Linked DNA regions of Homo sapiens: region 2 is linked to region 1. The links come from fine-mapping of genetic effects on gene expression. A gene starts in region 1. The other region holds a variant in brackets. All regions are shown on one strand. Distances are from middle to middle. Region 1 holds the start of SMIM26 (small integral membrane protein 26). Region 2 overlaps DTD1 (D-aminoacyl-tRNA deacylase 1).

Region 1 (16,428 bases):
ATTTTAAATAGAAAATATTATTGACCTAATATAAATCTGACATGAATAACTATTTACACAGTCCCTATGAATTATGAATCTAATAATTATTTTCCTGTTCCTACAGGGTGATGACTATTGAAGGTACTCCATAGACGTGATATGAATATGTGAATGAATAAGTGAAGGAAGAAAGAGTGAAAAAATTGAACTGCCTAGCTTGTGTTCCTGCTTCTGAATTAGTTGTACTATGGGAGACATCATCTGTTTAATACTAATATCTGAGCCAGGCACAGTGTCTCACGCCTGTAATCCCAGCACTTTGGGAGGCCGAGGCGGGAGGATCACTTGAGGTCAGGAACTTGAGACCAGCCTGGCCAACATGGTGAAACCCCATCTCTACTAAAAATACAAATATTAGCCAGGTGTGGTGCGCATGCCTCTAATCCCAGCTATTTGGGAGGCTGAGGCAGGAGAATCGCTTGAACCCCAGAAGGCGGAGGTTGCAGAGGCAAGATCACACCACTGCACTCTCCAGCCTGGGCAACAGAGAGAGACTCCATCTCAAAAAAAAAAAAAAAAAAAAAAAAAAAAACAGAAACAATACTAATATCTGGATATAGCTTTTTCCTTTGCCACTAGAATAAAATATATTTAATACTAAAGTTCCCTTTGTGTATTCAACCTTTCTTTGATGATACAAGACGCTGCTGTATCCCAAGTCATCTACCACCACTCCATTAGATAGCAAATACATAAAGCCAGTGGGTACAATGTGTGGCCAAACTGCTACTTACCCTAAATCCACTTCACTTTTGTTCTTAATAGAGCCCTGATGGTAGTTTCTGACTTGTTCTCTGGCTCTCACGAAAGCATGAAACATCCTGGTAACTGGAGCACTCTGGCATTTGGATTTTAGAAAAGTAAAAAGTCTTCCGTGTTTCTTTTCAAAACGTATAGTCAATACCTCCGTTTCTTTGCTTTATGAGAGGAAGTTCATATGGTGCCAAAAGCTTAGACTTTGGTGCCAGAAAAACCACGGCTTCTGTGCTAGCTCTGCCACTTTCTATATGACCTTAGGAAATGTGACTTAGCCTGATTCAGCTTCAGTCTTCTTATCTGTTAAGTGCGGATAATATCTTGTCTTCATGATTGCAGTGAGGAGTAAATATAACACAGGAGCACTCAAAAAACAATCTTGCAGCAAACAATCTAAGTATATTTTCACAACCACACAGATATGATTGGGCCATGTCTGTCATTTTGGAAATGATGATAGGTCATATAATTAATCTTAAAAGTCTAATTCAGGCAGTTAAAGCAGAGCTCCCCAGAGGGTTGAAAGCCCAGTGCTGTGTGTGCTAGAACCCGTGGGAGCACAGCACCCTAAAAAGCATGGTTTTCATTCCATCAGGGTGAGTTTCTGTTGCTAGGAGCACCTTAACTCCATCACTTCTTTGACATCAGCCATTTCAACATTTTTCTCTAATCCATCAGCATACAAATTGGGGAGTGATTTTCTTCTCTGAAAATGGATTAGTCCAGGAGAGTCTCATGTTTGCTTTGAAGTATGCTGGATCTGAGATGGAAAAATACAAAAACAGGGCCAGATGGTCCTCTGATTTGAAATCACCAGAAAGTCTCTGTGAACTCCACGTGCCTGGTCCCCAACTACACGTGTCCTGCCAGAAAATGCACTCAAAATACCTCCTCACCTTGGATGTTACTTTGATTCACCTACAGTGTTTGGTGAGGCAGCAACTACAGGGCAGGCCCGGCCACTGAGCAACCAACCGAGTCCTGGGACCTCCAATGACCAAATTCCATCAGGATACTGTTACGGGAAAAAATCGGAAACTTGGAATCTAAAGCAAAAAACGTAGTGAGTTCTTTCAATGTCATCTTGGGGCACTGTGTTTAATGGGCTCACTCAAGAATTATTTAATTAATTAGGATATTTAATTAATTAGGGTACCTTTGTTTGACTCATCATCTACTTTTTTTTTTGAGACGGAGTCTCGATCTGTTTCCCAGTCTGGAGTGCAGTGGCGTGATCTCAGCTCACTGCAACCTCCGCTTCCTGGGTGCAAGTGTTCCTCCTGCCTCGGCCTCCCAAGTAGCTGGGATTACGTTCCACCATGCCCGGCTAACATTTGTATTTTTAGTAAAGACGTGGTTTTGCCATGTTGGCCAGGTTGGTCTCAAACTCCTGACCTCAAGTGATCAGCCCACCTCGGCCTCCCAAAGTGCTGGGATTACAAGCGTGAGCCAGAGCACCTGGCCAACATTTTTTTTTTTTTTTTTTGAGGCAGGGTCTTGCTCTGTCACCCAGGCTGGAGTACAGTGGTGTGATCATTGTTCACTGTAGCCTTGAATTCCCAGGCTCAAGCAATCTCCCACCTTAGTCTCCTAAGTAGCTGGGACTACGGGTACGCACCACTGCACCCCACTGATTTTTTAATTTTTTGTAGAGACGGGGTCTCACTGTGTTAGCCAGGCACCGTCACCTACTTTTAATTAAAGGCTTGGATTTTGTGAAGGTTCATGTTAACTTGTAAACTTTTGTTGGATAAAAATAAAAATAATTTCTGTCCATTAAAAAATAATAACCCAAAATTTAGGGCTTTATCCCCGCTAGAACATTAACCAGAAATCTTATTCTAACTCTTTTTTCTCCAGTGCCTAAATAACCTCTGGTCCTTTCTTCTTCTTTGAATCAGCTTTACCGTGCTGCTGGTTTTCTCATTTATGACTTGAACAAATATTTGACATTTGCTCATTCTTGTATTTGACTCATGTTTTTAACTTTTGAAAAGTATACTTGACAATCCTGAGCCTCTATATGTCACAGATATAGAGTGGGACTATAATAGAGTGGGACTATAATAGTATTCCTTCCATAGCTGGGTAGCCTTTGCCTGCATAGCATGTCCAGGGTCCCCAAGACTACCCCCAGGTTCAGTGATTTGCTGGGAGGACTCACAGGGTTCAGCATATAGTTATTGTCACGTTGGTGGTTTATTACAGCAAAAGGATACAAAACAAAATCAGCAAAGACAAGAAGTGCACGGGGCAAAGTCTGAAGGAAAACAGGCACAGGCTTCCAAAGCCCTCTTCCTATGGGAAGGGACACATTCTTTTCCTCTAGCATTGATTTATTTTTTTTTTTTTGAGATGGAGTCTCACTCTGTCAGCTCACTGCAACCTCTGCTTCCTGGGTTCAAGTGATTCTCCTGCCTCAGCCTCCCAAGTAGCTGAGATTACAGGCATGCACCACCATGCCCAGCTAATTTTTGTATTTTTAGTAGAGAAGGGGTTTCACCATGTTGGCAGGCTGGTCTCGAACTCCTGACCTCAAGTGATCCACCTGCCTTGGCCTCCCAAAGTGCTGGGATTACAAGCGTGAGCCACCACACCCAGCCTGACAACACTTTTCAAGTGTGGCCTACCAGGGTAGCTCAACAGAGACTCAAAATTTAAGTTTTTTTATTGGGGATTTTAAAATATAGACACACTCTACATAACACATACCAAAATTCCAGGTGGGTGGAGGCAGGGTGAAGGGTGGGCTGGACGCAGAGAGATGTTTGAGTCTGCAGAAGCAACACTTGGACCCCCAGGTACCCACCCCAACTTCCTGCACTTCACTCAGGAAACCTGAAGTTTCTGCTCTGGCCAGAGCAGAGGAGGGGGATGTGGCCCCGGATTCAATGGAAACCCTTATTCTAAACAACCATCTCCAAACCCCTCCCCAGTCTAGTTCCCAGGATTCCTACAGCCAGGCATCTACCCTCGATCCCTGTGGGAGACTGGAGAGAGGACCCTTCTCCTGGGAACTGATTGACAGATGCTGGCATGTCAGTACCTCCCACTAAAAATATCTGCCTTGCTGTCTCTAGTGGACATTTGTCATGGTATTTGTCTTTCCAGCATTTTGTGAACATCCTATATTTGGGGAACTTCTTACCTTAAAACTCCATATATCCCCACAGTAGAAGCCAGAAATTCTTTCCCAGACTTAATTGCAGCTAAGGCCCAGGAGTGTGACCAACACACCCTGAGTTAGGCATCCCCATGTGAAACTAGATTCGGAGACGAGTGACGATAAGCAGGCTGCTCCGGGAAGCCATTCTGATGTGGGGTCTTCAGAAACTCCCTGCTCTCAGAGGTACTGGAGGCAGGGGCCCGGCAGGAACAGCCTATTTTGTCAGCATGACCCCACAGTGCCTGTACCTGGTGGTGGTCTGGCAGGATACTTGGGGTGCCATTCCTGGCTGCGCTGTCTGTAACTATGTTTCCCCAATGATCCCCCTAATTCTGGGAGTTTCCCAATATCCTTTGCAAGGTTCCTTTTCAGCATGAACTGGCTCCAGTTCTGTGGTGTGTAGCTAAGAATCCTAACTTCAACACCAACCACCAGTAAAAAGCCAGTCATAACTTAACAAACACCTACCCCCATCCTCAAGCTGCAGAAGGTTCGTGAAAGGTTCTTAAATCAATGCCTGTACAATAAGAAGGGACATGAGACAAATGCCTCCAACTTGAGAGAGACAAAAACAAGTCATGTAAAGGAACTTATAGCAGTGCAAGAATAAATAGTAAAACAACTTAGAATACCTCCAGCCATCAGAAAATGTTGTATTCATCAATGAATAGGATACCATAAAAAGGAACTAATTTACAAGAGCTTTCTATAATAGCCAATATTAAAATGCAATTAAAAAGTTGGATTACAGCCAGGCACAGTGGTGCACACCAGTAGCTCCAGCTACTCAGGAGGCTGAAGTGGGAGGTTCACTTGAGCCTAGAAGTTCGAGACCAGCCTGGGCAATATAGCAAAACCCCATCTCAAAAAAAAAAAAAAAAAAAAAAGTTGTATTATATAAGACATAATGTATTTGCTTAGTTTTTGTTGTCTGTTTCTCCGCTGGAAGATAGAACTGCTTGAGGGCCTTGTTTATATAGTACTCAGCACACAGAGCAATGCTGGCCCAGCATCCCATGGTAGGCAGGGCTATACAAACTGGCCCCAAAGTCTAAGGAAGCCGAGAGGCCAAAAAGGAGGCTGACAAATCTGGTTTCTTAGAAAGAAACACTTAATAGGGACGTAGGAACAGAAGCCGTGTCTGTGTCTTGGGTGGCTGCCAGGCAAGATGGCGGATCCCTGAGCCATCACCCCGCAGACCCAGGGCTTTTATACTCTAGGGAAGGGTGGTTCAGCAGGGATATGTGGGACAACTGAAGTACAATAACATCAAGGTTGTTGGATCTAAGGGCAGGATTGACTGTAAGGACATGCTCTTACACAAGGAACAATAGATAAGCTGCAAATCTTAGAGGCCTTCATGGAACAAGGGTTAATCAGAATCCAACATGGCAGATCAGCGTCCAAGATGGATTTGCTTTGTCCTCCACACCCAAGGTAGGGGCTCAGTAGCTATCTGTTGAATGTGAAGGATGGTGGGATACACCACCAAAAAATATGCCACTTTGGCATAAAATTTATTTCGAGCTAAAGACACTTGAAAAATAGCAGGTGCAGGAAGGGTGATCTGACCTCCTCTTTTCTTTTTGAAGAGGAGATAGGCCGGACGCGGTGGCTCACGCCTGTAATCCCAGCACTTTGGGAGGCAGAGGCGGGTGGATCACCTGAGGTCAGGAGTTTGAGACCAGCCTGGCCAACATAGTGAAACCCCGTCTCTACTAAAAATACAAAATTTAGCTGGGTGTGGTGGTGTGTGCCTATAATCCCAGCTACTCAGAAGGCTGAGACAGGAGAATTGCTTAAACTCAGGATGCGGGGGTTGCAGGGAACTGAGATCATGCCACTGCACTCCAGCCTGCGCGACAGAGCAAGACTCTGTCTCCAAAAAAAAAAAAAAAAAAAAAAAAAGCAAGCAAGAGATAAAACTGCCATGTGGAAGATGCCCTCCCTATACCAGGAGGAAAGAACCATTCTTATCACCAGAGATGGAGAGTCAAGGTCGAGATAATTCTATACAAACAGGCCTTGTTTAAATAACTCTTATCCTCCTCTGGTTTCCTGTACATTTTAGTTCCTTTTCCATAATTGCCTCTTTTTGTTTAACTCAGTATATAACCAGTTAGGTTTTGCCACTTTGGGTCTCCATTTTTCTATGGGGGCTCCCAAGTGCATGTAAGAATCTGTACACTTTACTTTGGCTAATCTGTTTTATGTCAATTTAATTCTCAGGCCCAGCCACAAACCCTAAAAAGTATAGGTAAAATTTTGCCGCCTTCACAAGTGTATAAGTAAATGAATGACCCTCTCCCTGAAAAGTAGAAAATAAACAAAGAGATCAACAGTAGTTAAGAAAAAGTATAAAATAATAAAAAGTAGTCTGGAATGTCTATTAGGAATTCCAGACACAGAGAAAAAAAATTAAAAGGCAAACGGAATTCCTAAAAAATAAGAAAATTCCCCAGAACAAAACAAGAGTTTCCATGAACTAAGAACCCACTGAGTGATCAGCCTAGTCAATTTTTTTAAGCCACACTAGGTGCATCATTGTAAAAATTTCAGAACACTAGAGATGAAGGAGGTCCTAAGACCTTCTGGAGAGAAGAAAACAGGTAATAATCAAAGATTAGGACTTCTCAGCTGAAATATTGGAATTGCTAGAATACAGGGGACTGATGCTTTCAAAATTCTGAGGGAAAGTAATGATCAAACCTGGGGTTCTGTACCCAGGCCAACTAGTAATTGAGTATGAGAATACGAAAAAGACATGTTCTGGTCGGGTACACTGGCTCATGCCCATAATCCCAGCACTTTGGGAGGTGGAGGCAGGCGGATCACTTGAGGCCAGGAGTTTGAGACCAGCCTGGCCAATATGGCGAAACCCCATCTCTACTAAAAATGCAAAATTAGCTGGGTGTGATGGCGCAGGCCTGTAGTCCCAGCTACTCGGGAGGCTCAGGCATGAGAATTGCTTGAACTTGGGAAGCGGAGGTTGCAGTGAGCCGAGATCGCACCACTGCACTCCAGCCTCGGTGACAGAGCGAAACTGTCTCAAAAAAAAAAAGACATGTTCAGACATGAAAAATCACCAAAAAATTATATACCCTTTTTCAGAATTATGGGGACACAGTATCGAGAAAACAGAGATCCATTATAGGATGGCAAAGCAAATAGCAAAGAAAAATGGATGCAAAGCAGAACTAGAGTGATCAGTCCAGATTGTACCAAGAAGACAAAGAGCTCCAAGATTTAAAAACAGAAAAGAGAAACTGGAAAGGTTTGTGTGGAAAATTATATTGTGAGGTTAGAGGATGTGGAAAGAATGAGAGAGAAACATCAAGAAAACAAAGCAAATGAAAAAAAGAGTGCAGTTAACTCCAGAAAGAAAAGTTATATGAGAAACAATTATAGCTCACTTACTTGGCTTATCAACAAACTATGTTTGCATAGTTAAAACAGGGTAAATATTAATTATTGATTCATCAAAAATATGCAATAGTTTTATTGGTTAGTCAGTTGGAAAGGAGGATCAAATCCTCATTAATAAATCCCATACATGATTGATAAATTAAAGATATTAGTAAAAGCTTATTATTTAGAAATGTGGACGTAAATACCAAAAAAAAAAAAAAAAAAACCTAATAGTTGAAAGCAAGGAGGGATAAAGCAGGAACTGTTTTTTTGGTTACAAACTTTTGATCATTATTTAATTTTTTAATGCATTTGTTGCTTTGTTAAAAATATAAAAATTAATTTCAAAAAAGTCATGCTGGCTAATACTGTAGAAACCAATTGGAGGGGACTCCAAGTAGAGACAAAGAGAGTAGGAAGTTGAGGCTACATAAGCAAAGAGGATGGAGGATTTAAGTAAGGTAGTGGTAAAGGGAATGGGAAGGTGGGAATGGAGTGGAATATTTGCAGTAGAAATGATGGGACCTGGTGGCTGGAGGAAGGAGAAGGAACAAGAAGAGGGAGAAGTCTAGAATGATAGGTTCCTAATTTGAGGAACTGAGTACTCTCTGAGAAAGAGAACGGAAGGAAGAGCAGCCTTGTGGGTGATGACAGCAATTTAAGTTATGGACAAAGCTGAGGTGGCTAGATATCCAAGTGGCAATGCTAGATGGACATGGATCTTGAGTTCAGGAGAACGCTGGGCTGAAATAAGAGAATAAATTAGATCTAGCAAAGAAACCCAGCCAAGTCCCAAGGAAAGCTAACCCAAATGTCCCCTTAAGCCCCACAAGTGTATGAATCCTGGGTAGACTGCCAGGTGAGAGTAGAAGTTCAGCTGTTTATCCTCGGTGTGCTCTATTAACAACTCTCACCTGCCAAGTGCCACAGCCCCTCAGCCCTTGCCCTTTGTTTCTCTGGAAGCCCTCATGTTAGGAAATGTCTTCCAAAACGTTCATGCTACTGTTCCCATTTCTCCCATACTTCTGATTCACTTGCTTCTCACCTTCCCCATCTACTGTCGTACACTGCTTCTCATTCATCAGTTTGATGCCAACCAAGATGGTCCACTGGAATACACAGCCAATTGGCACGAATCCATGCTTGACCTGATATCCCTTGGGAAGCTGAGTCTCTGCTACCAGCATCTGGAGCTGTTACTTGTGATTTTGGAATCCTTGTCACTAAGGCTGACTGCACCACAGCACTGCTCAGGCCACCCATAATGGTGGAACTGACACCAATGAGAAATCAAGATGAGGGTCTGAAGGTCATAGTACTGTAGAGGAACCCTGAAATGCCCAATTCCTGTCCTACCACACATCACATCTCTACTCACAGGGTCCCAACAGCTATGAACAGGAAAACACTACCTAAATGAGAAACAAATGCCACTTTATTCATAACTGAGGCAGTACTCTATAATCCATAGGCAGGGATCTGATAAAAACTGAACTGAGTCTCTCGCAAGGGTGGAAGCCAAAGACCAGGTTGAGGAGAGGCTGGTCAGACTTTGGCACTGCACATGGGAGGTAGTATCTTCTTGGGATATTTGTATTACTCCAGAAAGGTGAGAAAAGCAGCTGGTGTGCAATAAGAAAAGCAAGGCCAAGAGCCCAGGCAGGCTCAACAAGTGGCTGCCTGCATTCTGGTCCCAGTGTCAGGCCTTCTGAAGACAACATACTGCTTTTTTTTTTTTTTTTTGAGATGGAATCTCGCTGTCAACAGGCTGGAGTGCAGTGGTGCGATCTCAGCTCACTGCAACCTCCGCCTCCCAGATTCAAGCGATTCTCCTGCCTCAGCCTCCCAAGTAGCTGGGACTACAGGTGCGCGGTGCCATGCCCAGCTAATTTTTGTATTTTTAATAGAGACAGGGTTTCACCATGCTGGCCAAGACGGTCTCGATCTCTTGACCTTGTGATCCGCCCCTCGGCCTCCCAAAGTGCAGGGAGTACAGGCGTGAGCCACCGCTCCTGGCCCATACTCTCTGCTTTAATTCTGAGCTACCAATACACGTTTTTTATAAACACCCACTTTTGATTTAAGCTCACTTGTGTTTGTTGCCTGCAACCAAGAGACCACTGAGGAAACTGGTTCAGCATCAATCATGTCGTCCTGACTGCATTCCCAGCATTAGAATAGCACTGGCCACAGTTGGTGGGTAATCCACACTTGCTGAAGGAATGAGGGGTATGTGCACTGGTCCTAAAGAATAGGTCCAGTCTGTTTAATTCAGAAGTTACAATCAAATTTATATCATACTTACCCAGTACGCAGTAGTACCCAAAGGGCTACTGTGAATCCCAAAGTGAATATGGAGATTTGCTGAAACTAACCTTAAAGCGACCACTAAAGCTGTGCCTAATAGCAACATGAAAGAAATATAAATCTACATTAACTAGTTTCAGGAAATCAAGCTTATGGAAGCTCTATGTGAAATTTCACAGCAATCTTTCACTCATGCAAATACAGAGGAACACCTCTTGAAAATGCAGATAGTAGGCCGGGGACCGTGGCTCACACCTGTAATCCCAGCACTTTGGGAGGCTGAGGCAGGCGGATCACAAGGTCAGGAGATGGAGACCATCCTGGCTAACACGGTGAAACCCTGTCTCCACTGAAAACACAAAAAATTAGCCAGACATGGTGGCAGGCGCCTTTAGTCCCAGCTACTCGGGAGGCTGAGGCAGGAGAATGGCATGAACCTGGGAGGCGGAGCTTGCAGTGAGCCGAGATCGAGCCACTGCACTCCAGCCTGGGTGACACAGCAAGACTCCGTCTCAAAAAAAAAAAAAAAAAAGAAAACGCAGATAGTTTCCTTCAAGAAAATATTTATTGCATATTATTAGTGATTATGTTTTACAGCAAATTTAAATACATACACTTTTCACAAACCCAAAATGGGAATCAGGGCAACTATCAAATTTAAATGTTGAACCAAGTCCTGGTTTTCAGAATTCAGCAGCCAGTCATGGTTCTGTACCAGGGCCACCAGTCCATGATTTCCAATAGTTGAGGATCTTTTCTGTATTTGGAACAAAATCTTCTTTATATGTGACAACTGTTTCCACATAAAATCCTTTTGGGCGTTCAGAGAGTTCACTGGGTACTTCACTTGCTGAGCCATCCTTTTGGTCTACTTTATCACCATTAAGAGAAAAAAAAAAAAAGAACACCTGAATTATTAACTTAGAAAGCAGTCATTAAAGTCTTAGAAATTAACTAAGGTAAGAATTACATCCACTCTCTCCAACCCCAATAATGAAGGAAGGAATGAAAAGGAAGGGAAAAGAAAAGCTGGGTGCGGTGGCTCACGCCTGTAATCCCAATCTCACTTTGTGGGGGCCGAGGCAGGTGGACCACCTGAGGTCAGGTGTTTGAGACCAGCCTCGCCAACGTAGTGAAACCCCATCTCTACTAAAAATACAAAAATTAGCTGGGCGTGGTGGCATGGGCCTATAACCCCAGCTACTGGGGAGGATGAGGCAGGAGGACTGCTTGAGTTGGGAGATGGAGGTTACAGTGAGCCAAGATAGCGCCAGTGCACTCCAGCCTGGGCGACAGAGCTAGACTCTGTCTCAAAAAAAAAATAAAACAATTCGCCGGGCAGCAGTGGCCTGCGCCTGCAATCCCAGCTACTCGGGAGGCTGAGGCAGGAGAATCACTTGAGCCCGGAGACGCAGGTTGTGGTGAGCCGAGATCATGCCACTGCACTCAAGCCTGGGCGACAGGGTGAGACCTTGTCAAAAAGAAAAAAAAAAAGAACGAAAGAAAGAAAACATAAATATGGACATTAAAATATTTTTACTTTATATATAAATGTAAAGTATTTTTACCATATATTACATATAAAGTAAATATAAAATATTATATATAAAAATTTCTTTTTCTTTTGGTAGAGATGGGGGTCTCCCCATGTTGCCCAGGCTGGTCCCGAACCCCTGGGCTCAAGCAATCTCCCACCTCGGCCTCCCAAAGTTATGGGATTACAGGCGTGAGCCACTGCACCCGGCCAAAATGTTTTTAAATGCTTAATGCTGGACACATGTACTTTCAGGCCACTGACAGCTTCATCACCAAATGTAATCTTCAGCATAGTTTTTACACAACAACTTTACTGAGATATAATTAACATATACGATTAACCCACTTAAAATATACAATTTAATGTTTTTAGTATATTCAGATTTGTGCAACCAGCACCACAATCAATTTAAAAATACTTTCATCCACAAAAGGAATCCATACCTTTGGCAGTCATTCCCCAACTCCCCAACCCCTCAGCCCCTAGCAACCACACTAATCAACTTAATGTCTCTACAGATTTCCAGCATATTTTTCAAAGCTGAGAGACTTTTCTCCCTTTGCGCTTAGTAACTGGAAGATTTTAATACGCCTTGGCTGCTAAAAGTACTGAAATTGCTCGCCATATACGATGAGGGACAGTAGTACTGAAGCATCACTCTTTAAAAATCACCGGCCAGAGTCTCTGAAAGTCCACCTTGCACTTTACACAGATTCCTCCAATTCTGAATATGGGGACGGCCCTATCCAGTAAATGATTCAGATTTAGGAAACAATATTTACAAGGTATTAATAATTCCTGGAGTCTAGTTCTTTGCAGATTCCATTATAACAAACGGCTGTTAGCACCCGTTTCAATTAGTTTTGCAGAATAAACCTGGGATTTAAAGGACAGGGAAGTTGTTTCCATGACCCCCGGGGAACTCTCATCGAAGGCCGTGTGTTCCGGGGCAGGCCCCGCCGAAGAGCCCTACCTGACGACTTCGCCATTGTCCGGCTATAGTAAAGCAGTGAGCCCAACACAGACCAGGTGCCGATCCCGTAGACCACCGACATCCGCCGGTACCAGGCCGTGAACTCATTTCGATACATGGGTACGCCAGCGAGTGCCTCGATTCTCGCAGGCCCACGGCAGAGGCGGGACTTCCGGTGAGGGCGTCGCTGCGGTCCCTGCCGCCGGAACCATTAAGGAGCCGCCAGTTTTCAGCGTCCGCTTCCGGCTCTGCCCCGATGCACCTTGGGGCCTCTGGCCCGGAAAGTCGCTCAGGTGTCCGGACTTTCGGGTGTAGAACTGTGGGCGTGCGATACTTTTTACCACGTGACGAGGACTAAATGACAACTTAGAGGAGAAGCTTCTCACTTGCAAAATTGTAATGCCTTCGTGGGCTCCAGACGGTATCCGAAAAGGTTACTTCCAATTCCTCTTCCAGTTTTCAGATTTGCAGGGATACCGCTTGTCTCTCCCCGCAACTCTTCTTTTCCTCCATTTTTCTTTCCGGAACTCTGGGTGAACTTTAAATACTTCCAGGCCAAAGCTAATCCCTCCACTAGGCTCTGGGTACTATTTTTTCCAGCCTCAGTGGCCTTTCCCCTCATTGACACCCTAAGTCCTCCCCCATCTTCATTATTGACGTTTATCCTTCATACAAACGTGCCCATGTCTCAAAAACAAAAAATCTCCTTCGACTCCGACCACCTCCAGCTTTTGTCTTATGCATACATTTTTTAAAGCAAGATGCCCTCAATAGACTGAACAACTTAAGAGCAAGTGTGATGTGCTTGGCACAAGGTAGGCCCGGTAAATTAACGTTAAGTACTTTTCAGCCACACTCAAACTTGGTTTCGAAAGCATTTGCCACCACTGACCCCACCTGCACCTTTCATGGCTTCAGAAACATCATTTTCCCTGGTATCCTTCAGGGTTCTTTTCACCTTGCCCACCCTTTAAAAACTGATGTTCTGCCCTACAGAAATAGATAAAAAACTTAACTCTGAATGGATCGCTGACTTAAATGTAAAAGCTAAAACTATTTAATATAAGCCTAGAAAAAAACCAGGAGAATATGTTTGCCATCTTGGAATAAGCACAGAATTCTTAGAATAAAAAAGGCATCCCAAGCGGGGTGGCTCATGCCTGTAACCCCAGCACTTTGGGAGGTAGAGCAGGGAGGATTGCTTGAACCCAAGAGTTCCAGACCAGCAAGGCCAACATAGTGAGACCCCATCTCATTTTATATATATATGCATAAAGCGAAAATGGATAAATAGGGCTTTTAAAAAAAAATTAAAATTTTTGCTCTTTGAAGGTCACAGTTGAGAAAATGAAAAGCCAAGCCACAGAATAAAATATTCATAATAACATATATCTAACAAAAGGACTTGGATCCAGAATATATGAGGACGCTTTACAACTCAGTTATAAAAATACAGCCCAACTAAAAACCAGGCAATAAATTTGAATAGAACGAAAGAAGATATACAAATGACCAATAAGCACAGTAGCATCATTAGTCATCACAGAAATGGACATTAAAAGAATACAATAAGAGACCATTACACACCTACTAGAATGGCTAAAATCAGATTGAGAATGCCAAGAGCTGTAAGGATTTGGAATAATTGGAACTGTTATTGATGGGAACATAAAATGTTACAATCTCTTTGCAAAACTTAGTTTTTAAAAAGTTGAACATATGCCTACCATATAACCCAGGCATTCCGTTTCTAGTTATCCATGAGAAATGAAAACCTGTGTCTGCACACAGCCATGTACATGAATGTTCATAGTTTTATTCTTAATAGGAAAAAATAGAAACCACCCCCAATACCCATCGAGTAAATGGCTAAACAAAACGTGGGATACCACTTACAAATAAAAAGGAACTACTGGCTGGGTACGGGTGGCTCACACCTGTAATCCCAGCACTTTGGGAGGCCAAGATGGGTGGGTCACCTCAAGTCAGGAGATCGAGACCAGCCTGGCCAACATGGTGAAACCTCGTCTCCACTAAAAATACAAAAATTAGCCGGGCATGGTGGCGGGCGCCTGTAATCCCAGCTATTCCAGAGGCTGAGACAGGAGAATTACTTGAATCCAGGAGGCGGAGGTTGTGGTGAGCCGAGATTACACCACTGCACTCCAGCCTGGGTGACAGAGTGAGACTCCTTCTCAAAAAAAAAAAAAAAAAAAAAAAAAAAGAACTACTGATAAATACAACCATACGATGAATCTCAAAATGGATTATGCTAAGTGAAAAAGCAAGCTAGACACCAAAGAAACCAGTCACGAAATTCTAGAAGCAAACTCCAGTGGGAGAAAGCTGATGAGTAGTTGTCTGCAGTAAGGGCATGGAGAGAGGGAAGGGCTAAAAGGGTCTGAGGAGACTTTGAGAGGTGATGGTAATGTTCTGTATGTTGATTATTGTGGTGGTTTCTGTCAAGATTTATCCAATTGTATGCTTTAAATGGGTGCAGTTTATTATATGTGAACTATAGCTCAATAGTTATAGACAAAACAGAAAAATTGGTATTGTTTCAAGCTTGCGTCTCTTCTCATCCTTCTCATCAGCCTTACTCATGATACCTATGTTATATGTTAATAACTCTCAAATCTACTCCAGATTCTCTGAAAGCAAATTCATGTTACTGCCAACCTGCTATGCATCCTCGGCTGCATATTCCACAAGCTCCTGAAACTAAAAAAATGTTCCGAATTGAATTTATCAATGCCACTCCCAACAGGAAACAAACCTTCCCTTTCTCTTCCCTGATTCAGAGAGTGATTGAGAAATTGCCCAAGCCAGGAACTTGGAATCATCTCACCTGACATCCTCTGTCACCTCTGTCTAAATACCCTGTCTCTGTTTAGGCCTCATTTCTCACTTGGATTACAGTCTCCTCTCATCCTTCCCCCTCTGGAGTGTCTTTCAAACCTTAAATTATCATTTCACCCTCTGCCTAAGATAAGTCAGAGGCTTGCCCTACCTTCAAGATGGAGTTCAATACCCACAAAAATTAACAATTAATAAAAAGATGGAGTTCAGAGTCCTCACTGGGCATACTGGGCTCAGTGGCCCCTTCTCATGATAGCTGTTTTCCACACAGCACTATCACCCTGCCACCCCCTACATTCTGTGGAAAAACGTCACTGGTACCCTAAGGTGGGACCTGCATGGCCATGTCATACCATGCAGTTCCCTCAGCTCCTTAACTCACTGACACTAGAGAGAACCGCAGAGTTAGCTGGGTCTATCACACAGTCTTTTTTCTGTTAATTTGAAACAGAAAAGCCAAAGAGGATGTTTTGGCCTTAATCTGTACAGACAACTTTATGTATTCTTCTATATGATGTGTTAAAAATTATATCCAAAACTAAAAATATTCTTGGAAAACGCACAGAAAAATGTAAATGTTCAACTTTTTTTTTTTTTTTTTTTTTTGAGATGAAGTCTCCCTCTGTCACCCAGGCTGGAGTATAGTGGCGTGACCTCAGCTCACTGCAACCTCCACCTCCGAGGTTCAAGTGATTCTCCTGCCTCAGCTTCCCAAGTAGCTGGGATTACAGGTGCCCACCACCACTCCTGGCTAATTTTTTAATATTTTTAGTAGAGATGGGGTTTCACCATGTTGGCCAGGCTGGTTTTGAACTCCTGACCTCAAGTGATCTGCCCACCTCAGCCTCCCAAAGTGCTAGGATTACAGGTGTGAGCCACCGCACCTGGCCAATGTTCAACATTTTAAGATAGGAAACTCTGCTAGAATTCTGCTAGAATGTAGGGCAGAGACAAAAAGAAATACAATAACTTGTATTCGAATACAAATTCAAAACAGAGTATTGCAATCAATCCAGCTGTTCCAACATCCAATTAATAGGAGCTTCCAGCTTCATTTTCCTACATAGCACTCATTACCTTCTAATGTATCATTTACTTCATTTCTTTTTTGTTTTTTATTTTTTTGAGACGGAGTCTCGTTCTGTTGCCCAGGCTGGAGTGCAGTGGCACAATCTCACTGCAACCTCCATCTCCTGGGTTCAAACAATTTGTCCCTGCCTCAGCCTCCCAAGTAGCTGGGATTACAGGTGTGCACCACCATGCCTGGCTAATTTTTGTATTTTTAATAGAGAAAGGGTTTCGCCATGTTGGCCAGGCTGGTCTCAAACTCCTGACCTCAGGTGATCCGCCCACTTCGGCCTCCCAAAGTGCTGGGATTAC
Region 2 (16,428 bases), 64 kb before region 1:
AAGACTGAGGAAATGATCCAGAATGAAGGACGCTAAAGACACATGACAACCAAATACAAGGCATGATTCTGAACTGGATCCTTTCACTATGAAGACCTTCTTGGGACTCTCTTCCAGCATGGCTGAAGACAACTCTTCACACAAGATGGTAGCAACAAGTCATAGGTGCAGTTGCACCAAATTCACAGAAGATTAATTGAAAATTCTCATCAATAGCTTCAATCAAAAACTTTACTCAGATTATGCTATCAAACAAAAACTTGCTTTAGAAATCAATACAGAAGATTCACCCAGAATCCAGATTTGGTTTCAGAATCGAAGAGCTAGGCACAGATTCCAGGAAAGATCAGACCTGAGACTTTAGAGTCAAGCCAGAGCCATAAGCAAGATCAACCTGGTAGAGAAGCCAGACGGTGTCGTACTACCTACAGCACCTCTCAACTACGCACTCTCAACAAGGCATTTATGAAAAACCCATACCCTGGGATTGATTCCAGAGAACAAATTGCTAAATAAATTGGTGCTCCAGGCTGGGCATAGTGGCTCACAACTGTAATCCCAACACTTTGGGAGGCTGAGGCGGGTGGATCACCTGAGGTCAGGAGTTCGAAACCAGCCTGACCAACATGGAGAAACCCCATCTCTACTAAAAATACAAAATTAGCCGGGCATGGTGGCACATGCCTGCAATCCCAGCTACTGGGGAGGCTGAGGCGGGAGAATCTCTTGAACCCAAGAGGCAGAGGTTGCGGTGAGCAGAGATCGCACCATTGAACTCCAGTCTGGGCAACAAGAGCGAAACTCTGTCTCAAAAAAAATAAAAGAAAAGAAAAGAAAGAAAGAAATTGGTGCTCCAGAGTCAAGAGTCCAAATTTGGTTCCAAAATCAAAGATCTAGATTTCATCTTCAGAGAAAAAGGGAACCTGTTGTGTCCTTAGAACAAGAAGACCAGGGGCAAGATCTCTGAGGGACTTCAAGGTACAGAAGACACATACAATAGCACCAACCTCACTAGCAACTGTCACTTCCCTAGAGCCAGAACATGGTGAAAACACTCAAGTTCAGTGTATTTAGTATTATCAACTTGGGTCCCAAATCTCTCTCACGGTCTTCCTGGGAGTCGATCCTTCTGCTGAAACTGCAAGCTAAGCCTTCTGAAGAGGGTAAACAACTTGGCCAGGTGCGGTGGCTCATACTTGTAATCTCAGCACTTTGGGAGGCAGAGGTAGGAATATTGCTTGAGCCCAGGAGATTGAAACCAGCCTGAGCAGCACAGCAAGACCCTGTCTCTATGATAAAAAATAAAATAAAATAAATAAAAAGAACTGTAGGAGGCAGAGATAGGTACAAGAGGCATCACACTACCCTACTGACACAGCCTGGATCCAGAGTTCAGCAGACCTTGAGACAATGAAAATAAACTTAATAATAATAGTAATAAAAGACCTCCTTGGGATAACTGGTAAATTATGGAGGCTGAAGATGGCTGCTAGTAAAATGTCAATGCTAATTTTCTGATTTTGACAGCTGTTTTGGGGCTTCTATAAGAGAATGTCCCTGTTTGCAGGAAAGATACTAATGAATTCAAGGGTGAGAAGGCATCAGGCCAACAACTTACTCTCAAGTGATTTCAGAAAATAAAGTCCCTGATACTGGTCTCCCAACCTGTCTGCAAGTAAAAACATCATACACCTTATACCATATACTAAAACTAACTCAAAATGGATCAAATATCTAAATGTAAAAGCTAAAACTATAAAACTCTCAGAAGAAAACATAAAGAAAAAGCTTCATGATTTAGATTTGGCAATGATTTCTTGGATATAATATCAAAAGCACAGGCAACAAAAGCAAAAACAGACGAATTGGATTTCATCAGAATTAAAAACTTCTGTACATCAGAAAACACCACCAACAGAGTGAAAAGGTAATCCACAGGATGAGAGAAAATATTTGCAGATCATCTATCTGTTAAGAAATTAATACACAGAATACATAAAGAACTTCTGCAATTCAACAATAAAAAAAACACAAAGCAATTCAAAACTGGGCAAAGAACTGAAATAGATCTCCAAAGAAGATATACAAATGGCCAAGGAGCACATGAAAAGATGCTCAACATCACTAATCATTAGAGAAACGTAAATCAAAACCACAATGAGATACACTTCACACTTATTAGGATGACCAGTATCAGAAAACACACACACACACACACACAAACACACATACAAAACAGCAAATGTTGGTGAGGATGTGGGGAAATCAGAACCCTTGAGCATTGCCGGTAGGAATGTAAAATGGTACAGACGCTGTGGAAAACAGTATAGTGGTTCCTCAAAAAATTAAACAAAGAACTACCATATGATCCACAACCTGTACCTAGGTATTTACCCAGAGGAATTAAAAGCAGGGTCTTGAAGAGATATTGGTACACCAATGTTAACAGCAGCGCTATTCACAATAATGAAAAAGTGGAAACAACCCAAGTGTGCATGGATAAACGAATGGATAGACAAAATACGGTATACAAGAGAATATTCTGTGGCCATAAAAAGAAAACTCTGACACATGCTATGAACATAAGGCTCAACATGGATGAATCTTGAAGAAATTATGCTAAGTGACATAAGCCAGTCACAAAGGGACAAATACCATATGATTATTCATATGATACTCAGAGTGGTCAAATTCAAAAGGCAGAAAGTATTATAGAAGGGCCGTTGCCAGTGGCTGAAGGGAGAAGAGAATCGGGAATTACTACTTAAGGGTAAAGTTTCAGTTTTGTAAGATAAAAAGAATTCTGTAGATAGGCTGGGAGCAGTGGCTCACACCTGTAATCCCAGCACTTTGGGAGGCCGAAGCGGGTAGATCACTTGAGGTCAGGAGTTTGAGATCAGCCTGGCCAACATGGTGAAACCTCATCTCTACTAAAAATACAAAAATTAGTCAGGCACGGTGACGCATGCCTGTAATCCCAGCTACTCGGGAGGCTGAGGCAGGAGAATTGCTTGAATCTGGGAGATGGAGGTTGCAGTGAGCTGAGATCACTCCACTGTACTCCAGCCTGGGTGACAGAGCGAGACTCCGTCTTAAAAAAAAAAAAAAAAAAATTCTGCAGATAGATGGTGATAATAAAAGTTGCATAACAATGTGAATATACTAATGCCACGAAACTGTATACCTAAAAATTTTAGGTTATGTATAATTAAACACAATTTAAAAAAATCTTCTGACATATACCCACCCAGAGATACCATGTGTAAATGTGGGTAAACATATTTTTGTTAAGTCTGGAAGTAAATACATAGAACTTATTAACGGCGCTACCTCTGAGAATGAGAGTTATTGTCAAAAATATTTTTAGTGTATCTTAAACTTCTAAATTCTTAAAAGAATACTGATTTTATGTATTAGATATAACAAAAATTGATATAAAAATGCTATTTTATGGACTCATGAGAAAAAAGATAGGAAAATAACTGTTTCTATAAAAATACCTTTCTACCCAGGAATACTATAAAAGCTTACTATTAAAAAATAACATTTCTAAATTGTTACTTTCCAGTTAATACACTGCTTTCTTGCTTGGAATTTTTTTTCAAGTAGTAATTATGATAATAAGAGACTCTTCCCAAGAGAAAATGAAGGGGGGCAAAGGGACAACATGAAACTTAAAAAAAAAAAAAAATCCTCAGAGCATAAGGCCAGATCTGGTCTGGATTTCAAAATGAAATTTTATAGAACTTATACTTATCCCCTGAAGGTTTCATGACCCAACAATGACACGAATGGTTAATAATAGCCTTTGCCCTCCCTCTGCAGTCAAACAGCCATGCAATTCCTGAACAGAGCCACTGCCCGGGGGATATTATGTGAGTATCATGTTCCTGACTTAGCAAAGGAGAAGTGGAAAATGGAAACAAGGCCACAAACTCAGATCTTTCCATTACAAAGAAATTGAGGCTTCCGGGCTTCACTTTCATGATTAAAAATAGAAAAAGAAATTGACTTCACATTTTATGGAAAATAGTCAAACGAATATATTTTCTGTGAAGAATATTCATAGACATGCCATTCTTTTGTGTTTCGTTTTGACAGAAATAATTGCGATGGTGGAGCTAGTGAGGTATAAAGTGGCTGCTGCGAGACTCTTGACCAGCTAGCAGCAAGAGGCACGCTGGAGCCCACAGTAGGACAACCTTCTCCAGTCCTGACTTCCACTCCGCCTCTGGAGCAGCTGCCTCCCTTCTGACAATGACTTTCCATAATTTCCAAGCTCAATGAACACCAGGAAACATACTTTTCCAAAAATAAATCTTTCTTTTTCTGACAAGCTCCTATGACAGACATTTAGAAATTTCCCTGAAAATATTAGCTACAATAGTATACATAAATCAAATTCAATATACATGTTTCTTGGGCTTTTTACAGTATCTTTTTAAAATTAATGTTTTTGTATTTGGGGGAAAACTGGGCAATAGTGAAACACTTGGCTTCATGTTGACCAGGAAAAAGGAGACTGCTTCCCTGAACTTGCTTGCTTTTTTTTTTTTTTTTCTTAAAAAAAAAACCATCAAACAAGTTCTGGCTTTTGTGTCCAGACTGTGCCCAAGGATCACTAAAAACCAGGGGTGAGCATCGCACTCCTTGATGTCCAATGTCTGATGTCATCATAGAAACTCATGCCATGGAATCCCTCCACCATGCTGGCCTTGGAGGCAAGAATGGGGTCATTCCTGCAGTGAACTGTGGGAGGTTGAACTTTACAATATTACTCTCTAATGCTCAAGCCACAGTATGAAAGAACCAAACATGAGTCACTGACAGAAAAGCTCTACTGTGGAAGGCAGAATATGAGAGTGGTTGAGGGCCTCCAAAGTGTATCCAGAATCTTTCCACAGCTCCTAAATGCCCTCTCTGCCACCCTGTCACAAGCCACACATCCCCCGATCCTGAGCCTACACTAAACCCAGTCTCATCCATCTCTGCAAACACAAATCAGAGCTCTCAACATTCTAACAGGTCTTTGGCTTACTAACAATAAAAGCCAAATTCCTTACCTTGGCCCATGAGGCCTTGTTCCATCAACCCCAGGTCACAGCTCTGGCCTCAGGTTCTGCCCCTCTCCCTGTCACCCTCCAAGCTCCAGCCACACTGGCCTTTCTTCCACCAGTCACCCTAGAGCTCTGCATCTGCTGACCCCTCTGTCTGGCACTCTTCCTTCAGTCTTCACTGGCTCCCTCTTATCTCAGCATCCTTCCCTAGCGCTTGCACCTAAGGGGACTTCTAGCCAACAGCATTCTCTACACCTAACCCTGTTTGATTTCTTTATATCATCAGAATTTTAAATTATACTTGTTTTTGTTTTTGTTTGTTTCTCCACTAGAATGGAAGCTTCATGAGGGTACAATGTTGTTTCAGTGCTGGACCTACATGCAGGGCCAGCACAGAGCAAGCACCCAATAATAATCTGCTGGATAAAGGTATTGGATGAGTAGGTAGTGGACAGGTGAGTGGATGGATAGATGGATGGATGGATGGATGGATGGATGGATGGATGGATGGATGGGCAGATGGAGGGACATATGGGTGGATGGATAAATGGATAAATGAACAAGCAAGCAAACAAACAAATGAGCATGAGCTTTTTATTCAAGGGCATTACCACTACGAAATCCTTGCCACACCACGTGATGGGGAGCCAAAGGCAGGAAGAAAGGCCTCGCCTGGATGGGCACTGAGGTAAGCATCATGTGTGAAGAGCTACCTATCTGAAATGAACCTTAAAAGATGGGGAAGATGTCAGCAGGTAGAGACAGGGAAGGAGTTCATTTCAGGTGGATGAGCAGAGACACAAAGGAGAAAAAATTGTGATACTTATTCATGAAACAATAAATAATCTGCAGGAAACTAGTCTACAATTCATTGTGAAAAGCTTTTACCATGAACTGAATAGGTAATAATACATCATAAAATATGAGCCCTTAACAATTTCCCATGTGTGTTTAAATGTAAATGATCAGCTAACTGCCCATGGAAGCCTCCACATTCATGAATTTCATTAAACTACAATTTCCATGCAGAGGCTAAGATGTCGATCACCCTGGGTTTTTATTCTAGTTCCATTAACACTTCGACAGATGAGTAAGGCATTCCATGTCTGGTACTCAGAAAGCCAAGAAAACTATAAATTACTTTCAACTACAAGTCTTAAAGTGGCTACACTGCTACAATCTTGCACACTCATTGAGCAATCCACATGTTGGGCTCATCTCTCCTAGGAAAAAAGTTATTACCCCAGCATATGCCTCAATGTCACCCAGTAGAGCGGCTGATCATCAGTCACTAACATATTGAGCTGTTGTTGCTGCATCGGCTTTTCCCTGACACATCTGTAATTGCGTTGAGAAGGCACCATATTCTGGAAACATTTTCATCACTGCCTGTGTGGCAGGGGGAAGGGGTGTTGGGAGACTGAGGGCTCGTTGATGAATAAGAACAGACTCACATGTGACCTCAATAATCAAGCAAAGCCATCTTGTTTCCTGGCAGCTGCAGTAACATAGGTTGTAAAGTATTTTTAGACAGTTGGGGGTGAGGAAGGGAGGGCAGGGTGGTCCAGAAGAAACCAACACCTGGAGCAGATGATCACTGCAAGGCCTGATTCTCTCTATTCCAGTAGTTCCCAAATGTCAGTGTGCTTAGGAGCACACAAAGACCTGGTTAGAAACATAAATGGGCTACTCTTCTGCCTTCCTCATCCAGACACTCCAGGAACTCTGGCTCAGAAAACCTGGGTGGGCCCAGGACCCTGCATTTTAGTAAGCACCATGGGTGGCTTGATGCCAGTGGTCCTCAGTCTGCCGTTTGAGGAACACTACCACCAACCCCTGGATAACTTTGATAGAGAAAGAATGTGTAATCTCTGCACACAACAGTCCCCAGTCCACCAGCCTCTTCACTTCTTGGGACCTCCAGAGAATGTGACAAAAGTCCTGGTCCCCTTTTTCCCAGCAAAAGGCACTTGCACACATCCACACATACAAAACTTGTGGGATAAGCTCAGGCCAGTCTGTGAGCCCCTAAGAGTCTACTTGATCCAACTCACACCCCACTGACCCATCCTAACCTTCTCTTTAAGATTAAAAAAGATAACTACCTCATCAGTCATTACAGACTACACCTATACTGCGGCAAGCTGGCAAACACCTCTGTGTAGATAAGGGTTTTATCTATGCCTGTAAAAAAAGTATAGCAAGTGCTGCATTTTTTAGAATTCTATCACTTCCAGATCTTTCATTCTCTCTCCATTACTAAAGCAAATGTTTCGGCAAGGTTTTCTGCAAAACACCACTGACTGGCAGAACATTTTTCTACAATTACCCGGGACTGTGAAGCTCCTGGTAAATCACTTAACAAGCTAAGAATTCCCAATTAAAATACTGAGTCTGTTTAACTAAATTATTGCTATGCACAATGTATAAATCCATGGAAGGAAAAACTCTACCTCTCTCCCTTCAGAATAAAAAGGATGCTGTTAATCTTTGGCAGGTCAAGTCAGCAAGGTAAGGAGTTCGTTTTTTTTTAACACACACACAAATGAGATTATAAGATTAAAATAACTAGGAATCTGCCCAAAACACATATACAGGAACAAACAAATAAAGCCCTTAAACCTTAAATGCACTACCCCATTAGTGTCCTGAGAGACTGGTTTAAAGCAAAACAGATATTTTGCTCTGGTTGGAGATTAGAAATGTCTTATGTGTCAATGGTAGAAAAGAAACAGATCCTAGTTTTTAATTTACCAGACATATTCCAGTAGAAGAGAAAAAAACTCTTTTCAATTTTTGCAATTTCCTTAACCTGTGCTATGGATTTAAGATGGTAAGGTGAAAGTCAATTGATTAATCAATTCATCAATGGGTCCCCAACAAAGAGACAGTCATGCCAGCCTTGTAAAGGCTTCTTTTTAAGCCCACTATGAGCTGACTTAGGACAACCATCTATTTGGAAACAAATTAAAGTGATAAAAGTGATCCCTTACAGCTCTCCACCAGGAAGAAAAACATCTACTAAGCTCCCACCCTTTCATACCAAATATTCATGCAATAGGCAGGCATTCCCCCAGGCACTGACAAGGACTCAGGATAAATTCTGACTGTGCAGAGCAGTGGGCTGGGCTGAGTGAGGTCAGGAGCTCCACCATCTCTACACCCAACTCACTCCCCAGAGGGCTGAGCTGATCTCATAATTCATGGAAAGCAGGTGCTCAGACAGAAAGGATCAGAAATCCAGGTGATTCCATGTGTGGTGAGAGGTCTGGCCAGGTGGCGCCCTAGCCCTGGTAGGAGGCCTTCCATGTGGCAGCCTACGTCCCAGAAGTCAGCGTCACTGACAAAGACTGCACAACAGCAACAACTCTGTAATGAGGACGCTTTGCTGAGTTCCCACTTCTGTTTTGGTGATACTTCAGCATAAACAAAGCTGGACCCTCAGTCAGCGTTTGTTCAATAAATTAATATGACAAAATGAACTAATATTTCTGGAGTAATTGACAAGATCTGGCTACCATCTTGGCAACCAGACTTTAAAACATACTCCTGCAGCAAGTCAACAACTCGAGCTTGGTTCAGGCCATGTGAACACTGAAGCTGAAACCAACCACAATTAGGGAGCTAGAATCTAGAATTCAAGCCTAAAAACAGAGTGAAAAGGAGTACATTTAAATAACTGTTCTTCCATGAAGAGATGCAAAGTTATTAGCAACAACATAATTCTTCCTTATATTCAGAGTACTTCTCATTTGATTTGTCCCCCAAACTGAAATATGCAGCAAGTGAGAGCTCCCCTCTGTGCACCTGTGATGGGGCCACCTGGTAGAAGCAAGCCACCTGTGTGCTCATGTGTCCTTCATTTCACCTCTGGATTCCACAGCAGGTAATCAAAAGGCTGCCCCTGTCACTGGAAGTATAAATAAATAAAACCAAATG[T/G]AATTCTTTTCCCCCACACCCCCTTACCCTACATATTTCTTTCAGATCCTACAAAAGCCATGAATGTCTCAATCTTGACATTCCAAGGTCCAGGCTCAGGGATTAATGCTTGCTGATAAGACAAGTATACAGAGAAAATTATGGACAGAGCAACGGTGATACTCAGAGGAGCGTAAAATTAATAGCTCCGTAAAATTGAAGGCACCGTGTTTCGCTAGCCAACTCATCCCAGTGATTTGTCAATAAACACGTCCGTTAACTCAAACATGTATACTTGAAAGTTCATTTTTTTAGCTCCTTCCAGCATTTCAATTTAATGAGGGCTTCGATGGCACTAAATAAATGAGAATGTAAATAATTAATGGCAACACTATGAACTAAGTGGGCCCTAGGCCCCAGGGAAGAGTCCTTCAATTACCAATGGCCCTTCTCACCAGGAAAAACCTCCATCTGCCCCCCAATCCATGTGAGGCTCAGGAAAACAAGCCCTACGCAGAGAAAGAGCACTTAAGATTAAAACAAGACAAGAATAAGCTTCTATCACAGAAATGGCAGGCTAGGGTGTTAAAATCTCCCAATATCTAGCCACCAATGGAAGAGCTCATGCACCAGCAATCATGCACTAGGTAATAATAAGCAGGATGTTCCTACCAGAATCGTGTTCTCCTGCAAAAAATGCACCAGGCAAAACAGCAGTCAGTTGGTTCTGCTGCTGCTTCCATGTCCTGTTCCCTTTGGAAATATGTCATTTGGAGCAAGAATGTAATGCTCTCCTTCCAACTTATCACTGCCAGGACATAGCATGAAACCCACGCAGCAGCCTATAATGTGATGGGTATGCTGCATGGAAAGCATGCAGATGCTGCAGCAGCCAGTTCTGCAAACAAGCAGCGGTCCAGTTAGAAAGGCAAACTGCTGGTTACCTTTACCAGCTCAGTCTTCACCAGCAGTAGCTGCATCACATAAGTAGAGCTCTGAGATTCTTGAAAATAAGAATCTACCCTTATTTGAAGTAGAAATTTGAAAACAATAATTGGGAATCCCTTCTACTTTCCATATCCTTAAAGGTCAGCTAAAACCTCCGGTCCCCTGGGAGGCCCACTCGGCTGAGAGGCAACAGCAGTGACAATGGCCTTCTCTGAACTCAGGACATTCATAGACACCACAGCCCACCAGCTGTGAGCACCACTGCTAAACAAACACCACCCCTCCCACCCACACACACCTCCCTGGACAGGGCAGTGAACAACACTCAGGGAGCTTGAGTTTTATGAGTGGTGTGGACCATGATAGCAGATGGTGTGAAGTCTGTGAAATACACCATCAGAGCAACAGGGCAGAGTAGAGTAGCCGAAGGGGCTTCCTGGGAACTGTGGGGGTCAGAGATTCTTGGAGAAGGAGGGGGAGACCCTGGAATTGAGACAAGAGCTCCGAGGTAGGAAAGAGCTTGACCCTCTTCTCAGCAAGGGAGAGGAGGCAACAGCAGATGCAGTAGGTGAAGCATAGGGATGGAGGGAAAGACAGCCACAGAGCAGGCAAGAAAGGGCCACGGACGCCTGGTCACTTAGGCCTTGGCAAATGACAGCAAGGAATGCAAGGCTTCAGCAAAATGCACTTGGAAGGCACTGAAGAGTTCTAAGGAGGAGCACAAACTGAATGGTCTTGTAACCTTTCCTAAGTTGTCTTATGCTGTCCACCTCTTTCACTGTCATTAACCTTTCAGGTTTATGTTGCCCAAAATCTATCCCCGGCTGCACAGGCTGGGCAGCAGCAGTTCCTTCTCTTCCTCACAGTGCCTAGCACACCATCAAATACCAAAACGACACTTGGTGCTTACATACATACACAAATGCATGCACACATACCCACATGCACATGCACATGGGCACACACATCACATATACACACACACATACACACACATACACATATGCACACATACCCATGCACACATATACATCCATATACACACACACATCATCCATTTGTTCAGATAGTTTAAAGAACTTATTTATATTTTAAAAGAACCTGCTAAAAGAATCATTTTTCTATAACGTTGAAATTTGCCAAAAGAACCATTTTTCTTTAATGTAATTGTAGCAGTTTTCATTACTGATTGGAATATAATGGAAAAATAAAACACTGAGAATTAAAAGCTTAATTGATAGAAACACGTGTTTATCTATCAGTAAAAAGAATTTGGCTGTGCTCCTCCTATCAACACAAAAGCAAGCAAATTAGCTATTTGCTCCAAGAGGAAACTCCTTCTAATTCAGAAGAAAAGGCAGAGAGAGGCCCCAGGCACAGGCCAGCACCAACCTAACACAGGCCGCTTCTGCGCCTACCCACCGCCACCTACTGGAGAGCTAGGGGCAGAGCGCAGTGCAATGTTCAGGGTCTGAGGCTTCTGGGGGCCAGGAAACTGGTCCATGTAAATGAAGTTGATGCAAGACAATTTGTGTATTTGAGGAGAAAACTCCTAAAGGATTCAGAAATAACTAAAAGTCTTTTTTAATCCTTATAAGTTAACATGGCTCGTTAGAAGTTTAAAAAATGCCTACTTGAGGATTTTTTGATTTGGGGAGAGGGATTTATTGTATAAGGTGTACAGCATGATGCTCTGATCTACATACACATAGTGAAGTGATTACTACAGTCAAGTAAATTACATGTCCAGCATCTCACACAGTTACCGTCCTTTATTCTGTGTGTGCTGAGAATTCCTAAATCTACTCCCAGTGCACAATATGATACTGCACTCCTTATGGTGTACATTAGATCTTGAGACTTACTCACCCAAAATAACTGCATCTTTGTACCCTTTGACCTAAACAAGAAGAGGGTACTGGTTGAAAGAAAGGTGAAGATTCTAAAGGCAAAATGTACTATTCTACCATTTCCAGAAAAATATTTAGAATGAAAAAAAGACTAAAATTTTTCTCCAAATAGAGTTAAAGCAGAATAATAACTAAAAACTATGGAATAATGATCAAATAAAACCAGAGGGAGTAGCCAGAGGCAAGACAAAAACCCAGAGAGAATGACGTCCTGGGAAACAAGGCTCCAGCCATTTCCAGGGGCAAAAGTGGGCAGCAGTGGCAAGAAAAGTGTTCTGAAAAATGGGCATGAAATAAAGCAATGTGAGGTCACTGGGGCCCTCGGTGAGAACCTTTACAGACCCAAGGACACTGTGGCAGAGCAGAAGGGAGGAAATGGAAGCATTTCTCAATTGGAGACATTTGGGCATATTTAAAACCCAATGGGATAAGATGGATGACTGTGAGAGGCAGACAGAACCAACAAGAGGACAGAGGCTTCCAGGAAGCTGCTGAGGAGGTGGAAGGGAAGGGCTCCAAAGCCCAGGTCAGTCTAGACCCACAGCCGAGCAGTCACACAGGCCCCATCTTCAGAGGGGCCCCACCTTTCGTTTTATGCTCTATGTCACCACCTTGAAATTTGTAATATTTTTTGAACAAGGGGCCCCACATTTTCATTTTACACTGGGCCTCTCAAATTATGTAGCTGGTCCTGGCCCCAGGGAGAGGCTGGACTCAGCCCAGGAAAGGGTAGCTCTGCTACCACGGTGGCAGAAGGGGGATAGAGAAGCAGAGTCAATGCCATCTGCTGGCTTCTTTCCCTGCAAAGCTGAGAGAGAGCTGTCTGCTGTGAATGAGCCAGAGGACAGACAAGGGGAAAGAGGTTAGCACTTCATCTAACATGGAGGTATCTGGTAGACTTCACCTGAACCAAGTAATAAGGCTGGTATCACAGGTAACAAGACAAATCAATACCACATACCTCCTGGTAGGATGCACTATGAAGGGCACAAGATCACTTCTGTGCTATTTCCTATTCCTGTCAACATGTATTACCTCAATATAATCATAGAAAACCCAAAGTGAGAAACATTCTACAAAACAGTAGACTAGTACTCTTGAAAAGTATCAATGTCACAAAAGACAAGGAAAGGCTGAGGAACTGTCACAGATTGGAGAAGACTAAGCAGAAATGACAACTAAATGCCGTGTGGAATCCTGCATTATCCCGGAGCAGAAAAAAGACATTTAAAAAACCTAGTGAACTTTGGCTGGGCGCGGTAGTTCACACCTGTAATCCCAGCACTTTGGGAGGCCGAGGCGGGTGGATCACCAGGGCAGGAGATCGAGACCATCCTGGCTAACATGGTAAAACCCCGTCTCTACTAAAAAAATACAAAAAAATTAGCCGGGCATGGTGGCACGTGCCTATAGTCCCAGCTACTTGGGAGGCTTAGGCCGAAGAATGGCATGAACCCGGGAGGTGGAGCTTGCAATGAACGGAGATCGCGCCACTGCACTCCAGCCTGGGAGACAGAGCGAGAATCCGTCTGAAAAACAAACAAACAAACAAAAAACCTAGTGAACTTCAAATAAGGTTTGTAATATAGTTAATATAATAGTACTATATCAACATTAATTTCAAAGTCTTGGTCATTGTACTATGGTTATGTAGACATTGAAACTAGAGGCAGTTGGGTTAAAAAGTATATGGAAACTCTGTTTTTTCAACTTTTCTGTAAGTCTCAAATTATTTCACAATAAAAAGCTTACATTTTCATGTGGACTTTTCATTTGTGATTTTTTTAATGTCATTAGTCATTCCAAGACCCTCAGTTACTACCACTGAAGTCTAGCCTACTACATCAGACATGTTCCTCAATACAAAAAGAGTCAGAAACTGCTATGGTTTGGATTTGTGTCCCCACCCAAATCTCATGTTGAATTGGAATCCCCAGCATTGGAGGAGGGGCCTGGTGGGAGGTGACTGGATCATGGGGGTAGACTTCCCCCTTGCTGTTCTCGTGACAGTGAGTTCTCATGAGATCTGGTTGTTTAAAAATGTGTAGTACATCCCCCTGCTTTCTCTTATTTCTGCTCTGGCCATGTGAAGATGTGCCTGCTTCCCCTTCACCTTCCACCATGATTGTAAGTTTCCTGAGGCCTCTGCAGCCATCCTTCCTGCACAGCCTGCAGAACTGTGAGCCAATTAAACCTCTTTTTTTTAATAAATTACCCTGTCTCAGGTATTTCTTTATAGCAGTATGAGAATAAACTAATACAGAAACAAAAAAGAAAGATTATGTTCCACTTTAAAAATCTGGCTTTGGCCAGGCATGGTGACTCTTGCCTGTAATCTCAGCACTTTGGGAGGCTGAGGCCCTAGGTGGATCAGTTGAGCCCAGGAGTTCAAGACCACCCTGGGCAACATGGTAAAACTCCCTCTCTACACAAATTCAAAAATTAGCCCAGCATGGTAGCGTATGCCTGTAGTCCCAGCTACTTAGGAGGCTGAGGTAGGAGGATCACTTGAGCCTGGGAGGTCGAGGCTGGAGTGAGCCATGATCGCACCACTGCACTCCAGCCTGGGTGACAGAGCAAGACCCTGTCTCAAAAAAAAAAAAAAAAAAAAAAGGCCGAGCACAGTGGGATTACACCTGTAATCCCAGCACTTTGGGAGGCCGTGGCAGGCAGATCACCTGAGGTCAGGAGTTTGAGACCAGCCTGACCAACATGGAGAAACCCCGTCTCTACTAAAAATACAAAATTAGCAGGGTATGGTGGTGGGCGCCTGTAATCCCAGCTATTCGAGAGGCTGAGGCAGGAGAATTGCTTGAACCCAGGAGGCGGAGGTTGCGGTGAGCCAAGATGGCGCCATTGTGCTCCAGCCTGGGCAACAAGAGCGAGACTCCATCTCAAAAAAAAAAAAAAAAAAAAAAAAATCAGGCTTTGAACAGGTTGCCCAGCTTCACGTTTCTATCACGCTGTCCCCTTACTGCCGCATCACTGGCCATCACAGCATGCTAGCAAGGGAGGGAGACTGGGAAGGAAGAATGGAAATGTTTGCTCAGTCCTTCTTCCTCTGCCTGCCAGGCCCTACGTGTCTCTATCCAGTGAGTGTGTTAATTAAGCCTTTACAAGTATGCTAAGCATCTATGAGACCACGCGGGTTCCAAGGACTATTACACATTTCCTTTCTCTATTTTAATTAACTTTTATTTCATGAGAGCTTACAAATTGGCAGCAAATCCAGGTCAGACACTGCTTTAGAAAAATGGAGATTTACAGCAAACCTTGGGGGGCACATCTATCCACACCTGGGACCAAACCCAATTCAGGTAACCATTCGGAATGGGTGAACCGGCCAATCCAGGGCCATTGCTCTGCTGCCACCCAGGGGCAGGTGGGCGCCACGGCACCTGGCCAAGGGAAGGGAAGCCCAGGGGAAGAACCTGGCTCTGCACAGGACATGTCCTCTGGAATTCAAAGGCAGGACGAGGCAAGGGAGAAGTGCTGTACCCACCGGCCACAGTACTCAGGAGTGCACCGTAAACATGCACTCTTGGGAAGGCAGGTATTAAAATAAATACAACGTTGCAACAATGATGTATTTCCTCAGACCGAGGACTCTTCCAGGGACTAAAGGGATGTTACAGGCACCCAAGGGACGGAGCCAGGCACCAGACTCCAGGCTTACCTGCTTTGGGTCAGAGGTAGCAGTGCCGGGAGCTGGCGATTCCAGCTCTATGGTCACAGGCCCATCATTCTGAATGTGCACCTGCATGTAGGCCCCAAACTTGCCATCTGAAAAAGCAATCCAAACAGTTACCAAAGATGGAGACACCAGATTACTCCATCCAAAAGCACACTGTATTAGTTCATTTTCACACTGCTAATAAAGACATACTCAATACTGGGAAACTTACAAAAGAAAGAGGTTTAACGGACTCACAGTTCCTCACGGCTGGGAAGGCCTCACAATCATGGCGGAAGGCAAGGAGAAGCAAATCAGATCTTACATGGATGGCAGTAGGCAAAAAGAGAGAGAGCTTGTGCAGGGAAACTCCCGTTTTTAAAACCATCAGATCTCGTGAGACTTATTCACTATCACGAGAACAGCACAGGAAAGACCCGCCCCCATGATTCAATTACCTCCTACCAGGTTCCTCCCACAAAACATATGAATTGTGAGAGTTACAATTCAAGATGAGATTTGGGTGGGGCACAGCCAAACCATATCACACACCTAGATCAGCGTGATCCAAAACCCGGGTCACAGTGGGAGAAGGAGGTTGACCGGGAGGAGGATCAGCCACTCAACACAGGAAAAGTTAGCCAGCCTTGTAAGAGGGATGGAAATGCAGGATTAAGTAGCACAGAGGCTGCTGCGTGCCCAACAGATTTGGCAAGAAATAAAAGGTCTGGTAACACCAAGGGTGGGAAAGAATGTGGGTTACCGGGACTGTACATGGTGGGAAGGCAAACACAGAGCATTCTGGAAGGCCATGTTTGCACTGCATGCAGTGAAGCCCTCCATCTCCCTCCATGGAAGGCACTGCTTTTGGGCTACTGCGGCACAGGCAGGCCTCACACCCTGAGGTCCTTCCGCAACCTGG

The links. PIP is the estimated chance that this variant, and not a neighbour inherited with it, causes the effect.
Region 2: its variant is fine-mapped to the expression of SMIM26 in blood mononuclear cells (TOPMed, PIP 0.97).

The regions. Positions count from the first base shown.
Region 1 is chr20:18,563,358-18,579,785 of GRCh38, reverse strand. It overlaps SMIM26 (small integral membrane protein 26), which reads right to left and starts at 12,354. Exons shown (of 2, transcript NM_001348957.2): 1 at 12,190-12,354; 2 at 10,226-10,550. The coding sequence starts at 12,307. The coding sequence ends at 10,381. It overlaps LOC124904878 (a long non-coding RNA gene), which reads left to right. Exons shown (of 3, transcript XR_007067547.1): 3 at 107-187. RefSeq lists a silencer at 12,221-12,503 and an enhancer at 12,567-12,666.
Region 2 is chr20:18,627,315-18,643,742 of GRCh38, reverse strand. It overlaps DTD1 (D-aminoacyl-tRNA deacylase 1), which reads right to left. Exons shown (of 6, transcript NM_080820.6): 4 at 15,510-15,616. It also overlaps the pseudogene DUXAP7. Among named protein-coding and RNA genes, the nearest start is that of DTD1, 47 kb to the right of the region's middle. The variant T/G (reference allele first, on the strand shown) is at 8,997.